2 separate regions of the Homo sapiens genome follow, and region 1 is linked to region 2. The links come from fine-mapping of genetic effects on gene expression. Tissue or cell type: nucleus accumbens. Region 2 holds a variant in brackets; the other region holds the start of a gene. All regions are shown on one strand. Distances are between the middles of the regions.

Region 1 (8,109 bases), 160 kb after region 2:
TGGTAGGTTTCAGGAAATACTACCCCCAAATATGGCACCTTGACATTTGAGAAAACAGCAGAAGTGGAAAAGTCTCTTTGACATTCTCTGGACATTCTCCCCTGAAACATCCTATAAAAGAATTCTCTGACCTACATCTACAGTAGGTTGTAAGACCCTCATATCAGAGGCATTCTCCCTAGGCCCAGAAGAAATGAGTGAAGATACAGAAACATATCGCAGAATCTGAGCAAACCGGCCTTGCTAAATTCCCCCATTTATTACCATTAGGTCATACCTACTTGTCTTCCAATGATACTTCTGGATGACTAACCATAAAAACACACAGATTTCCCTGTTTCTTTGGGTCTTCATCTCTGAAATTTCCTGTGTCTCATGAAACTTAACACTAGATAAATTCATATGCTTTAAATCTGTGTTTTGTTTTACTGATCTTGGCCGTGAACCCACCTATAGGTGAGGAAAAGAATACTTTTTCTCTCCAACACTGATGAGGTCTCTAGATATACACCAACATGGAAGTGCTATTGGGAAGCACTAGTCCACATGGTTTATTGTGGCGATCAGCCTCTAGGTGATCAACTCTGTCTCCTGGTATCCATGACCTGATGCAGCTCCCTCTCACACTGTATAAGGATAAATGTGTATGACCAATGGAGCACAGAAGTGATGGTATGGTATGTCATTTCCAAGGCTAGGCCATAAAACATTTTGTAGCTTCTGCCTTGCTTTCTCTGCTGGAGTATTTGCTCTGGGGGAAGCCAATCACTATGTTGTAAGGACAATCAAGTGGCCTATGGATTGCCCTGAGTTACAAGAAATTGAGGCCTCTTACCAATAGCCACGTGAAGAAGCCATCTTGGAAATGGATTCTCCAGCCGCATTCAAGCATGCAGATGATGGCAATCCTGGCTTGAATCATATAAAATTGGAGTTAAAAAAGACTAGAGGCTGGGTGTGGTGGCTCATACCTGTAATCCCAGCACTTGGGAGGCCAAGGTAGAAGAATCGCTTGAGGCCAAGAGTTTGAGACCAGCCCAGGAAACATAGGGAGACCCCCATCTCAAAAAAAAAAAAAAAAAAAAAAAAAAAAGGTCTGGCGGTTAAGGATTAAGCAGGGCAGACACTGATAATTGGGTCCAACATTTCCCATGAAACTTGTAGAGATTTGTGGAATCCTTCTCTACTACTATTGACGAGAATTGGCACTCTTTATTATTCCTGATACCAAGAGATGTAGTGTTTGGTCCAAGTTTGCATGTCTAGTTAATGAAAACAAACTCCATTTTCTGACTGCAAGTCCAGGGTTCTTGCCAATACTGTGCTACCATCCATACAAATGACTTACTTTTACCTCTTTAATTTATATGAGATACCCATTCACTTGCTGACAATCAGTCATTCAGCTTTTTAGGAATTACTCATCTATAAAAAAAGATCGTATACTGCTTAAGAGAATGGGAGATAGTTGGAATGCTAATTGTGGTAGGCAGAGTAACAGCTCCCAAAGGTATCCAGGTCCTAATTCTGGGAACCTATGAATGCTGCCTTATATGGTAAAAGGGATTTTGTGGATGTAATTAAGGATTTTGAGAAGGGGAGATTGTCTTAGATTATCTAGGTAAGTCCTACATGCCATCACAAATATCCTTATAAGAGGGAGGCAGAGGAATATTTGATGAAGACGAGAAGGGGATGTGACGAAAGAACAGGAAGAGGAAAGGGGATGTGATGCCAGTCCAGAAGCTGAGGAATGAGGACTGCATCCCTCCTGGCACAGGTAAGGAAACAGATTTTCCTCCAGAGCCACCAGAAAGAGCTCTACTGGTTCTTTGATTTTAGCCCACTGTACCTGATTTTGGCAGTCTGACCTCCAGAATTGTAAGAGAAAAAAACTGTGTTATTTATTTATGCATTTATTTATTTTGAGAAGGGGGTCTCACTTTGTTGCTCAGGCTGGAGTGCAGTGGTACAGTCATAGCTTATTGCAACCTCGACCTCCTAGGCTCAAGCAACCCTCTTGCCTCAGCTTCCTGAGTAGCTAGTTCTACAGGTGTGCACCACCACGTGAGGCTAATTTTTTATTTTTGTAGAGATGAGGTCTTCCTATGTTTCCCAGGCTGGTCTTGAACTCCTGGGCCCAAGCAAAAATGTGTGTCATCTTAAGCCACTTGTTTATTATAATTTTTTTACAGCTGCCATAGGAAACTAATTACACTAATCTTAGCTCCAACAGATCGCACTTCTGTTAGTTTGTGCAAGAAAATCTTTCTAAGACTCTGCTTTCTGATCTATAAAATGGGAATAATAAAATGCCTATTTCATAGGGTTGTGGTGAGATTGAATAAGACCACTCATATAAAATGTTCAGCTTAGGACTTGGCATATGGAAAGGTTTTTGTTGGCTATGGATTTGGTCTAGACAAGAAGATTGCAACAGATTTTTCTTCTATTTGAAAACTCCGGTAGAGCACTAAGTAGCTCTTGGAATATATAAAGGATTGTGTATTTATTAGCTATTCTAGCTTTCTCTCAGGAGTGCTGACATCTATTTGTTTCTTCCTTTTTAACTGTCCTTTCTCAAGAGTGTTGACTGCAAGATGAGGCAAAGGCAAATAGGTGGAATAACTGGAGAATAACCCAGAATGAGACACAGAAAGAGGATTTTGAAAGGATTTCCTTGCCTATTATCTGCTTTCTGAGAGAGCCACACAAAACAGGTGAAAAGTTATACTATTTATAAAGATCTCCTGAGAGGGAGTGTCTACAGCTTTTCTGGTAATTTCCCTTGGTACAAATGAAACCTGTTCATTTTCAAGGAAAATTGCACTGATGGCTACACATTCTTTTTCTTTTTAAATAAAATATTGGAATGGTGTTGTTTTTGGAAGCTGCTTGTTACCCAATGTTGCCAAAAAGGTTTTATTATAATGAGGCTATGTGTTAGCTGTTCATGTTTCTAGTGCAGCATAGCTGTATAAATTTTTTCTTTTTCTTATCTCGGATTTCAGATTTCCCTATTTTTTTAAAAGTGTATAGTAATAATATTTACCAGTATTGTTCATCCCTACCACTCAGTTTTCTGCATATGCTTGTATTTTCTATTTCCTGCTGATTTAACTTCTGTACTCTGTTGTTTATAGGGACTTGTCATATTTGCATAGTTTAAGTGCTCTGTCGTTTCTATCACAAGCCCTAGTGGGTAGGTACAACATCTATGTAGTTCGCTTGTGTAGTGCTTGGTGGAACATCTTGTGTTTCATGATTGATTTATGATGATAGAGATGATACTATAAAATAAAGCCAAAGGAAACTTTTAACAATAGGGTCTAATCCTGTTTGGTCCTCATTGGATGTCTCTCCACTTGTAGGGGAAAAAACTGGAGAATAATGGTTGTGTCATCATGACAAACAACTGACATAGTTGAGGCCAGTCGAAGGCCCAGAGCAACCCTGGTCCTGTAGTCAGAGACGACTTATGAAAATAAATGAATCTGGCTCATTGACTTGAGTTCTTGTACCCAAACTGGAAAGGTGTGGTACCTGACACAGGAACAAAGTCTGTCTGAAATCAGCTGTCCGGGATGTCATTTTCTCTAGTGCAGAGACTCGATTGCCTAAATTGGTAGCAGAGGTGGATGTTTCCTAACATGATCTTCCTTGGCCAACAGTGACTGACATCTGAGGTAGGTCTTACCTCTACCTTGGGGGCTCACTGCTTCACTGGTACCATATAATGGTGGCAGTTTAACAGTAATCTTAGTAGGTCTTTTTGGACATTTTAAAGCCACTGCTCCAAAGCATAAGCCAGGCAAAAAAATTGATTTCCCTCATCCAGATGTCCCCATTGTCCAACATAGGTGAGACATTTTTTAAAAAGGCATCTCCAGAAGGCGATTTTTGATCCCTCTCCAGATAAGAGGTTCAAGCCAGCTTTTTCTTATTGTGGGACATCAAAATTTACTATATGACCTGAAATCCTCCCAGGTGATTTAATTCATTCATAGGTTCTAGGAGAGAAGATGAAACTTTCATTTATCCCCATGCTACACACTGACCAATACTGCTTCACCAAACTTTTATCAGTCTTGTTGCATTTTATCTGTTTACACGAGATCCATAGTGCTTTCTCATCCCCACAGTAAACACTGAATTCTGTTTATAACAGAAGGGCAGGATCTGTGGGGAGCATCCGCAAAGTGCTCCAGGCTCCTTTTTCCCTTTTCTCAGAGACACCAGGAATGTGCCTTTGCACTGTTTTGCCAGCATCCTTAAATCATGATTAATTTAAAGCCTTTTCTCTCCTTGGTGAGGCCTGACACAAGCAACTGCTTCTCTGTCACATTGATTTTTCTGTCCTTGCAGATTCAGAGCCAGGGTTGAGTCCTCCTCACAGGGCGAGTTCTCTGACAAGGAAGTTTTGCAACCTAATTTACAGCTGGAGCCAAGCTTGTCAGTGAGTGCCAGAGGGAAACTGTCGCAATCGGCAGGCAAAGTATGCATTTAATAGTATTTATCCAAGCCAGTTTGTGATTTCTTCACTCTCTCCAACAAATATGTTATTTGTAATAGCTATCTTCTCTCATCTAGGTGTTTGAAAAATGTCTCTAACGTGTGTGGGCTGGAATGCATTTTGTTTTTTCTGCAGGTATATTCATTTAACAAGGGGAGTCTCTGAGGAGCTATCAAAAACTGCTTGCCATCTTTCCAAATCATCTCTGTCTGCAGTGACCATGTCTTAATCCTGAAGGAAAACAAGGTAATCTTTTCAAATAAACATTTTCAAGGATGTTTAGAGGGAACCAAATTGCTGGCATGTAGAACCCCCTTCCAGTGCTTAAAAATAGATATATTGAGGGAGCAAAACTCCAGTGAGTTGGAGTGTTTGGAAGTATTTGATATGTTCAGATGACTAACAATAATAAGCTAAATTGCAAGCAATGATCTGAATTTGTGTGTGTGAATATGAGTGTGTATGTGTCAAAGAGACACTGAGTATCCTGTTTCTCAATGTTGTTGGTGGAAAATGAGGCGCAGAGGGGTTACACACTCCCAGTAGGTAAGCAAGTTGGTAAGGGACTTTGGCAATATTTGACCCTAAGCCCATTAGATTTCACTGGGCTAACCTGACTCTGGGGAGAGTAAATATGAGATGAAGAAACATTTGATCATTAAATAAAAAGGAAGCACTGAAAGAAAAGCAATTGGTTGCATAAAACTTATTAATGCAATACTTCTGCTCTCAAGGAAGTTGACATGCAATAGAAAGAGAACATGTAGAGTATGGATTGAATAAACCAAAAATTATGTAGATGATGTAATTACTATAATTAAATCAAAACAGATTGTGTATGCTGGAACTTATTGTATTACTCACAACATAATTTTGTATAACTTTTTTTTAAACCTGTCTCTTTTCCTTTCTGGTCTGTGGGTTTCTGAAGGACAAACCTCTTTTGGCAGTTGGGCCTGAAGCCCCAGAACTTATGCTGGTCCTGGCACCAATGAGGACAGAAATGATTGAGCACATGAATTTGGTATTGAGTTTGACATTATTGTGCTTCATTTTTTGTGGGCCTGGGATGTTTTCTACGTAATTCGTTTATCATTTATTGTTTAAGGTGTCTGCATACTCAAAATATCTTTTTAATGTCCTCCGCCTATACATGACATAAATACTTTATTAACTTTGTTTAAAAAATCTTATCACAGTGCCATCCAACAGGAATATAATGTGAGCCATGTGTAATTTAAGATTTACTAATAGCCATATTAAAAAAGGAAGAAGAAACTGGTGAAATTAATTTTTAATAATGTTTTATTTAGCTATATTCAAAACATTATCATTTTAACATGCAAATATAAATTTATTAATATCTCTTACATTATTTTTTCTAGTAACTTTTTAAAATCTAGTTGGTATTTTATATTTAATGCACATTTTAATTCAGCCCTCAAACTTAATTGCAGACCATTGTATTTCAGTGCTCAATGAGCACATGTGGCCACCGTGTCAGCACATTTCAATAGTTCGCAGGTCAATGTAGAGGACATTTTCCCCCCACTTAGCATTTCATCCCTGTTATTATGCCCACTGAGTGCCGTAGTATGGAAAAAACATGTGTAGCCTAGTAGCACAAATGTAAACTGGGGTGACTAACATCCTAGTTTGCCTGAAGTGGAGAAGTTTTCTGGGACAAAAGACTTGCAATGTTAAAACCAGGACAGTCCTGATAAAGCAGAATGGTTGGTATCCCGCAAGTAAACTATGTTGGTCCAAACAATATATCCCCTCCATCACTGTGATTTGTTTTGACCTAAAGCATAGAAACCTGGCTGCCAATTATGGGATTTTTTTGGGAAGCCACTGGGAGAAAGAACCTTACTTTCTGCTGTGGTTATTATCAGCTAACCTTTATATCATGTGGGGAGAACCTGTTTGAAAGTATTACCTACTTTGGAGGAAATCACAATGAGAAAGAAACTGAGTTTTGGTGACTTATTTTTCAGTTCTTGGACACTGTCGTGTCTGAACCTATCCTATTTTTGGACTTTTCAGTGAATTAATACATTCTTTACACCTGTCTCCATATTGTTTGTTTAAACAGTTAAGGTTGCATTTCCATCATGTGAAACTGGGATAGTTCTAACTAATAGGTTTAGAAAAAAAAAAAAAAAAGAGTACAAGAAATCTAGTTGGAATTCTTTAGGTTCATAAGAAACATAATCAGGCTGTCTATTTTATTTTAACACAGCCTCCTCAAGCTACTGTTGAGTATGTATGTGGTGCTGCCTAGGAACAGTAGGTATTTTTGTGGAGCAAGGGATTGCAGACGGTGAAGTAGCTGCATACTGGCAATAACCTATGAATCTGTGGGGATTCTGAAGAGTAGGAAGCAATGAGACCTGCTGTCTTTCCTTTATTGTCCCTTCCTCTATTGCTCTCAGACTGTTGTGCTTTGCTTGTGTTGTGGGTGTTTTGCTCTGCCATAATGGCTCTCATGATGAACTATAAGCTTCATTCTAGGTCCTGGGACAATCTACAGTTCATGAGATTCTCACCTATGGGTTAGGGACCCTTGGAGATTTGCAGAGTTGCAAAGTCAAGCACCAATTTATTCTTTCTTAATCAATGGATACTAAAAGTGCAATCATTAGTACATAGAAGGCTTGTAACAATTTTTGATGGTTTCAGAAGAAGATTGAGTAAGCATTCAATAGATAGATGCTACTGAGACACTAATATGTAGCTTGACATGGTTAAATGCCTTATGTGAAGCACTTAACAAGTGTTAAAACATCACATTTAAACTTCACAACAATCTTATTGCTGGCATTATTATTCTTATTGCTTTGAAATAAAAAAAAATAGGCTGGGCATGAAGGCTCATGTTTGTAACCCCAGCACTTTGGGAGGCTGAGGCAGGAGGATTACTTGAACCTAGGGGTTCAAGGTCAGTCTGGGAAGCATGGAGAGACCTCATCTCTATGAAAAGTTACAAATAAAAAAAAAATAGCTAGATGTGATGGTGTGTGCCTGTAGTCCTAGCTACTCGGGAGGCTGTGGTGGGAGAATCACTTGAGCTCAGAAATTCAAGGCTTTAATGAAGCCATTTCTACTCTAGCCTGAGTAACAGAGCAAGACCCTGCCTCAAAAGAAAAAAAATTGAATTATTACATTTTCTTTATTCGTTACTCATTTAACAAACTTCATTTTATACTATTATATTCTCAATGAATTTAACATCTAGTGGAGAAAGTAGGTGTACAAAAGTGATTATAATGCTGTGTGTGAGCATATTAACAAATACAGAGGGGAAGGAGAGGAAGGGTCTCCCATAGCAGATGTAGGTGCAGGGTACAGAGCATGGGATCACCAGAAAACTCCCTGGAAGCACGGTGCTTGAGCCAAACCTGACACATCAAAGTAGATCTGCACTATTGCAACAGTCTAGTACAAAATAACTTTTTCAGGAGAGAGTTTCATTATCTTGCAATGACAAATTTTAGTTTGTTTTTCTGCATCATCGTGACATAAGTGACAGGATTCTGATTTGTAAAGCAAAAGAGTTGGATTCTTAACCCTGAATTTACTACTAATGAGGCCCT
Region 2 (8,109 bases):
TGAATTTTATTGCAAACAAGATGGGTATATTAGTCTGTAATACTCTTTATTAATAAAGAGTATTTATTATTTATTATATCAATACATTGCTATAAAGAACTACCTGAGACTGGGTAATTTATAAAGAAGAGAGGTTTAATTGACTCAGAGTTTCACAGGCTGTACAGGAAGCATAGCTGGGGAGGCTTCAGGAAACTTACAATCATAATGGAAGGCAAAGAGGAAGCAGGAATATCTTACATGGCAGGAGAAAGAGGAAGAGTGCAAAGGGGAAGGTGCTACACACAACAACCAGATCTCGTGAGAACTCACTCACTATCACAAGAACGGCAAGGGGAAGTTCAAACCCATGAGACAATCACCTCCCATCAGGCCTCTTCTCCAACATTGGGGATTACAATTCCACATGAGATTTGAGTGGAGACACAAATCCAAACCATATCAACAGGTAGTTTATTCAGGGTCATAAATGAAGCTGTGAGGACTCCCTATTTCAGAAGTGATCTCAAACAAAGGGAAAATAAGTCTACATTTCACCAAGAAAATTTAGGTAAAATGTGCAAAATAATGTTTGGATTTTAAGGCATTTAGTCATTGGAAAAGTTTATTAAAGAGCAAGAATAAATCTCATTTCCTAGAGATCCTTAGAAAAATACAATGTTTATTTGACATAAAATACCACCTAGAGAAAAGAATCAATGTGCTTTTTTCCTCCAGCCACTTAAGCTAATCAACAATCAATTTGATTGACCATGTAATCATACTGACTTACTAATTAAGACCACTAGGAAAGCTGGAATATATTCAACCCCTGTGTCTATTGTTTTTCATCAGTAGGCACTTCCCAGGGGATATATCCTTTTGACTGTCTCCAGGACAGTGATTCTGCCATTATTTGACCCATGAACAACTTCAGTAGATCTTCAGTTATTTGTTCTAGAATTTGTCAGAATTCAGCTATCTGTGATCATAATTTTCAGTTGATGGCCACCACTATTTCCCCAAAAAATACTCAATAGAAGTGAGTTTGCCCTAGTGAAGAGTATTTTCTTTTTTTTTCTCAAGGGCACTAGGAATGAGATCAGTGCACATTGATTCCTGTAACATTTTGGTGACCTTTATAGATTAGTGACAATTAGTTGCCCAGCTGGCTGGTCCTACTCTTTTGTATTTATTTATTTATTTATTTATTTTTAATCCTGCTCCTTCTATAATGACTCTACTCTTAATGTGGTCATATAAACATGTTGTAAACAATAATGCTGCATAGCACTTGCCCAGGAGCCATGTAAGGGCTTCACAGGCCAGCTAAGACTCAGGCAGAGTGGCCAGGGGCATTTTGAAGAAGTGTGGGACTTGTGGTCTCAGACTCCTCCCCTACCTCCTTTATCATTCCCATGGAGACTGTAACATTCTCTTCTCTTTCCTGTGAATCATTGCTTGAGAGGCTTATCTTATTCCCTTTGCAAAGCACAGTGCCTGCAAAAGTAAGGGATTCATATTTGTTTGTTGGTTTTTGGTTTCTGTTTGTTTTAAAGAATGATGATGGATGCTCTAGTTGCTTTTAAAGAGTTAAATGATGTTTGCACTTGCTAAGAGGTCACAGTCTCCAGATGGTAATCTTTTCCACAGGGCTCAGGCTGAAGAGCCACACAGCCGGGCCCACCCTTTTCTTCCCTTCTATTCCCAAACTCCTCTGACAGCATGTTTTGTTAAGATTGGGACCATTAACATAGATTCTTTCCAACAGCAAACCAAAATTTCATGTTGGCAAAGTGTGAACTCAGTTCCGGGAAGGAAAAGTGAAGGATGTCTTGCTCTAGTTCACCTCCAGGAATTTCTGGTAGATCTATAAGCTACGTGAGACAAAGAACAGGTAAAAATTCCCTATTGTCGTGAAGAGATCAGGGATGCTTGTGTAATTCTAAACTACCTATTTTTGGTTCTAAGCACTCTATCTGTCTAAGTCTCTCCACACATGTTTTTCCCCACCTTCCTGTTCATGGACCTGCCATTACACACTCAGTCCATGTGTCATCCAGCATTAAAAGCAATTTATTTATTCATGCATCTTATCTGTGGTATGTGAGAAGTTCTGTATGAGATCAGGCAGAAGAGCGGTGCCAAAACATAACATCCATCATTATAACATCAAGACTTTTAAAAAATACTGTTGTGTGGTATCAGTGATAATTGGGCCTAATGATAATAACAAGTATTACATGGCAGTAGAGATATAGTATTCTATATGCAGAAAAGAATTTGGAAACGGGATTGAGGCAAGATGGTATGCATCTCTGGTTGGGATACGCTGGACAGACAATTACCATACATGCAATTACAAGTAAGGATGCTGGGTTCACACCTGGGCCTTGGGTGTAAGAATTGCCCCTTTCTGGTCTGCCTTTAGGGCAGCCTTGAAGCTAGTAAGGAAACAAGTCTTAAAAAAAGCCATTCTGTTATCATCTAGCGTTCAGCTTCAGAGGGGTTTCTATTGGGTAGCTTCTGATGTCCTTTCAAGGTCACAGCCTTCAACTGCCTTTGCCCATCACTACTTCCCAGAAAAGCTGAGTCTCCCATTCTTTCCCCAGATGCTATTTTCCTGATGCAACGTGGAAGGTAGAGTGGGATGGTAGGAAGGAGATGGCAAGAAGCAATCCCTCAGACTTTTTTTTTTGAGACAGAGTCTCGCTGTCACCCAGGCTGGAGTGCAGTGGCACAGTCTCAGCTCACTGCAACTTCTGCCTCCTGAGCAGCTGGGATTACGGGTGCCTACCACCACGTCTTGCTAATTTTTGTATTTTTAGTAGAGACGAGGTTTCACCATGTTGACCAGGCTAGTCTCCCGACCTCAGGTGATCCACCCACCTGGGACTCCCAAAGTGCTGGAATTATAGGCATGAACTACCACATCTAGCCCCTCAGATTGTTTTTTGAAATCATTTTCACCGAAAGTTTTATTTAGACACTGATATATGCAATGGGAGCAACCAGATTTATTCATTTGGAAAGGAGGAGGCAGCACTGTAGCTCTGGAGGAGAATCCACCCCAGATGCTGCTATTGAACTCGAAGACCTTACAATGGGGAGGGAGGTAAAGGCTTCTCTGAAAAGCACATTTCCTGTTCATAAAAGCTTCCTTGTATTGAGTGCCTATCAGGAGTTATCTAATTTAATCTGCATAATCGTTCTGTGATGTAGCTATTATTATCTCTATTTTATATATTGGGAAACTGAGATGCAGAATTCTTAAATAACTCACCCAAGATCTCATAACTAGTAAGTGGAAGAACTGGTATTCAAACCAAGAGCCCTTTATGTTCAAAGTGCATGTTTTTTTTCCAGAAAATAAACTGCCTCTTGGCTCATACTTCTTTGGGGGAAATGTTAGAATAATTTAATAAAACTGATTCTAAGCTTTGAGGCACTAAGAGAGTGATCTTTCCACAGTGTGCACAATTTGGATGTATTGGCCATGGGTAGGCCTGTTGGTGATAAAAAGAGGGTGCTGATTAATTCTTTCTCTAAACCCCATGAATCTGTAAGTTGGTCCATTTCACCCTTGCCCTTCTGGGGAAGTTAGGAACGAGGTAGTGTTGGTCACTGTTTTGTGGTGATGTACCCATGGTAAATGCAGAACTCTGAGGTTAGCCTGGCTGAGGGGTAACTCCTCTGGGATTCAGCCTCTTACTCATTACATAAATACAAAAGTTTGAGCAAGTCCCCATGTCTCTCCAGATGGGGCCAGGGGTGATGGCCCAACCTGAGTCTGGAATCCCACCTGCCCAAGAGTGACACCTGGGACGTTGATGAATACATTCTCTGTGCCAACGGCAAAGGCTGCACAGTGAGAAAAATAATCATTCTTCCCTAAGCAGTTGAAACCTGAGCTTTTCATTTCATGATACTAATCACCAAGTAAACAGCTCTTTTATGCTAACATCTGTGTGAGGGCTGCTTCCCACACCAGCCTCCTTCCGGCCTGCCTGTTCTCACTGAAATACCAGCAGCATCATGGGGACACTTAACCCTAAAGGTTATCCCTGGGCTCTCCCAGGGCCTATGACATGTTCCAGAGAGGCTTGGTCTTAGGGACTTTTCATTTCCTCAAGAGGGTAAGTGACTCCTTTGGTGTGCAAGATGTGTGAGCTGCCTTGGCAGCTGCTGAGACCCATTCAGAGACCTCTGTGCCATTTGCCTGGATTCTGGAGTTTCATACTCCTGAAAGTGCCTGGTTAATTTGCTGGGAGAACTGACTGCTTGAGCATAGCTCTTGGTTTGCTTTAACTTTCTTATTTGCCTGATATCAGCCAGTTCATGAAGCAGTTCACATATACCGTGCCAGATTTATAAAGTGTGAATTCAAGTCTGTCCTTGGCCTTCTCTGCCCAACCCCCACCATTTCCTTATTGTAGTTTCTCTTAAAACAGCCATGTTTCCCTTCTAAAACCCTTAGTAAATCCTGCCAGATTAATGAATGGGGGAAAAACGACAATTGCTTATACAATTTCATATGTAGGCTATAAGCAGTCCCTGTTCTCTGAGATCCTCCTCACCGTGTTCCTAACAGTCCAGGGCAGTTATTATGCTCCAGGTTTTATAAGAGGAAAAACAGAGAACATTCCTTTTCTTTTTCACTGCCAAAGGGGCGGGGTGGGGGGGATCCAACCCTGAAATTAAGTGAATTGAAAATGAAGTCAAAGGAACGGAGGCCTTC[C/T]GTTCTCTAAGCTCAACACTTTGTGATTTGCTTGATTACACTTCCCTCAGCCCCTCCCTCAAATCTCATAGGCACAGACTCATTACCCCATTAGGATTTGGCTGGGGAGGCCTAAGGGACAATGAGAACATACAAGAATCTGGCTGGGCTGCCAGAGTTAACAACTTCTCATGTGCAATAAAATCAGACAGCATTTTTGATGGACCACATTCTCATTGCATTCAAAGAGCCTTGGAAAGCTTCCATGGCTGCTAATTTCAAATAAGCAAACATCCCGGAGGGATGTGAGGCAAAGATGTGTCCTTTCGGCTCGCCCCTAACATTTGCAGGGCCCAGGGCAAGAGTACAAACGGAGGCCCACAAGCCATATGCCTAAATACTTAAAAGTTATGATGCAAGCTTGAACATTCTTAAGTAAAACATAAAATATGTTCTACCCTCCCTTCATGACAAATGTATTTTCATTAACTATCTAGAGGCTGGATTTGAATTTAGAGTTCCCTGACTCCTTGGAGTTTCATCCTGGAATTGGATGGCCAGGGAAATCGGGCCTCTCACTGCCTGGCCCACTGCCCTAGGTCCTGGGTCTACCCCCATCTTTTCAGACCCTACCCCCATCCTACAATGCATGGGACCTCTCAAACTCCACCACACGTGTCCAAGCTGCATTAACACCCTCATCAACAGCCACCTCTGGGACATCCCTTGGCCTAAAGGTGTGCCTAGTCAGGTCCTAAGAAGTTGGTTTTAGTTGATTGGGAAGGGAATTTTAGGGTCCTGGGAACTCAAAGCATGATTAAGGATGTGTTTGGGGTGGGGTGGGGGTATCGCTTTGGCCCCGTGGACTCTCCTTTTCATGAAGAGAAGTGCTGTTGAAAGAAGGCCAGGTTGCTTGCTCCCTTATAAGATGCAGAGCAGCATCCTCTCTTGCTTGGATTTATGGATGGTACATACACAGTAGGTCTTTCATTTTTTATTTTTTTGAGACAGAGTTTCACTCTTGTTGCCCAGGCTGGAGTGCAACGGTGTGACCTCAGCGCACTGTAACCTCCGGCTCCCAGGTTCAAGTGATTTTCCTGCCTTAGCCTCTGAAGTAGCTGGGATTACAGGCACCCACCACCACCCCCGGCTAATTTTTTGTATTTTTAGCAGAGGCGGGGTTTAACCATGTTGTCTGGGCTGGTCTTGAACTCCTGATCTCAAGTGATCCACCCGCCCCAGCCTCCCAAACTGCTGGGATTACAGGTGTGAGCCACCTACTGGCCTACAGTAGGTCTTTTATAAGGAAAGTTTCATCTAGAAAGTGGACACCTGCCACAATGTCTGCTGGTAGAGGAGCTGTAGGGCCAGGTACTTGCTTCATGCACTGAATGAGAATAGATGTCTAGCTGCAGTGATTCTATTCTGGATGGACAGTGACATCACCTGGGGAAGATTTCCCATGACTCTGCACAGATAGATTCTGATTTCTTTGGTTTAGGGTAGGGTGCAGGCACAAGTGTTTTCAAAAGGCTCCCCAGGTGTGATGGTTAATACTGAGTGTCAACTTGATTGGATTGAAGGATACAAAGTATTGATCCTGGGTGTGTCTGTGAGGGTGTTGCCAAAGGAGACTAACATCTGAGTCAGTGGGCTGGGAAAGTCAGACTCATCCTTAATCTGAGTGGCACAATCTAATCAGTTGCCACCACAGCTAGAATATAAGCAGGCAGAAAAATGTAAAAAGGGAGACTGGAGGCCGGGCATGGTGGCTCACGCCAGTAATCCCAGCGCTTTGGGAGGACAAGGTGGGCAGATCACCTGAGGTCAGGAGTTCGAGACCACCCTGGCCAACATGGTGAAACCCTATCTCTACTAAAAAGTACAAAAATTAGCTGGGTATAGTCGTGGGCACCTGTAATCCCAGCAATTTGGGAGACTGAGGCAGGAGAATCACTTGAACCCAGGAAGTGGATGCTGCAGTGAGCCAAGATCACGCCACTGCACTCCAGCCTGAGCAACAGAGCGAGACTCAATCTCAAAAAAAAACGAGAGAGGGACTGGCCTAGCTTCCCAGCCTACATCTTTCTCCCGTGCTGGATGCTTCCTGCCCTCAAACATCGAACTGCAAGTTTTTCAGTTTTGGAACTCGGACTGGCTCTCCTTGCTCCTCAGCCTTCAGATGGCCTATTTTGGGACCTTGTGGTCATGTGAGTTAATACTTAATAAACTCCCCTTTATTAAGTTTATTAATACTTAATAAACTCCCTTTTATATATATATATTCCATTAGTTCTGTACCGCTAGAGAACCCTGACTAATACACCAGGTGATTCTATGTGCAGCCAGGACTGAGAACCACTGGGCCCAACCTAATGACTTTGCTTCTCATACAGCATGGCATTAAATCTTTGTACCTACTTGAAAAGAACTCAAAGCCATTATGACCCCAGAAAGGTTCATTTCTAGAATAACATCTTCCATATTGTAACCAACAATTAAATCTGTGCTTACAGCAGCAAGACTTGTCTGCAAAGGTTCTGCTAGTGGTAGGCAGAAATCTTAACTGGCATCTCCTTTGTGCTTCATGCAAGGTAAAACTCAAAATATTTAATATTTAACAATCATTATAGCAATCAATCAATACAAACAGACTCCAACTATAAAATACAGGTTGCTGATATGGTTTGGCTGTGTCCCCACCTAAACCTCGTCTTGAATTGTAGCTCCCATAATTCCTATGGGTTATGGGAGGGACCCATTGTGAGATGATTGAATCATGGGGGCAGTTTCCCCCATACTATTCTTATGGTAGTGAATAAGTTTCATGAGGTCTGATGGTTTTATAAGAGGTTTCCCCTTTTGCTCTGATCTCTCATTTTCTCTTGTCTGCCACCATGTAAGACATGCCTTTTGCCTTCTGCCATGATTGTGAGACCTCCCCAGTCATGTGAAACTGTGAGTCCATTAAGCCTCTTTCCTTTATAAATTACCCAGTCTGGAGTAGGTTTTTATCAGCAGCATGAAAACGGACTAATACAGTTGGCTTTACCATTGCCTGATAAATTAATCTAGTTACTCCTCCCAGAAATCCTTTAAGATGTGCCTGTACCAGGTGACTTATAAGAAGGTGGGAGATCTGGGACTCAAACCCAGGTCTTTTGACTCCAAATCCTGAGTTCTGTCAACTCTACCAGACAGCTTTGCATAGCACTTCCGGTTGGCACAAACTGAGTTCTTTAGTCTAAAACATTGGCCTAAACCAGAAAACTTTAGAGAACTGTATTATCAGCCTCATTAAAAAAAAATACCACCCTCAAAATGTATCACCCAGTCTAAATCCATACAAACACAAAGGGGAAAACAACAGTTCAGAGCCTCTAGTTGAATGACAATTGTTTCTGGGACTAAGA

Evidence for each region. PIP is the estimated chance that this variant, and not a neighbour inherited with it, causes the effect.
Region 1: it holds the start of LINC02518, and the variant in region 2 is fine-mapped to the expression of LINC02518 in nucleus accumbens (GTEx, PIP above 0.99). The same link has a PIP of 0.9 or more in caudate, prefrontal cortex and putamen.

What each region holds. Positions count from the first base shown.
Region 1 is chr6:113,429,987-113,438,095 of GRCh38, reverse strand. LINC02518 (long intergenic non-protein coding RNA 2518) reads left to right here and starts at 4,649. Exons shown (of 2, transcript NR_149098.1): 1 at 4,649-4,759.
Region 2 is chr6:113,592,927-113,601,035 of GRCh38, reverse strand. No RefSeq gene overlaps it. Among named protein-coding and RNA genes, the nearest start is that of LINC02541, 53 kb to the left of the region's middle. RefSeq lists an enhancer at 3,954-4,133. The variant C/T (reference allele first, on the strand shown) is at 4,718.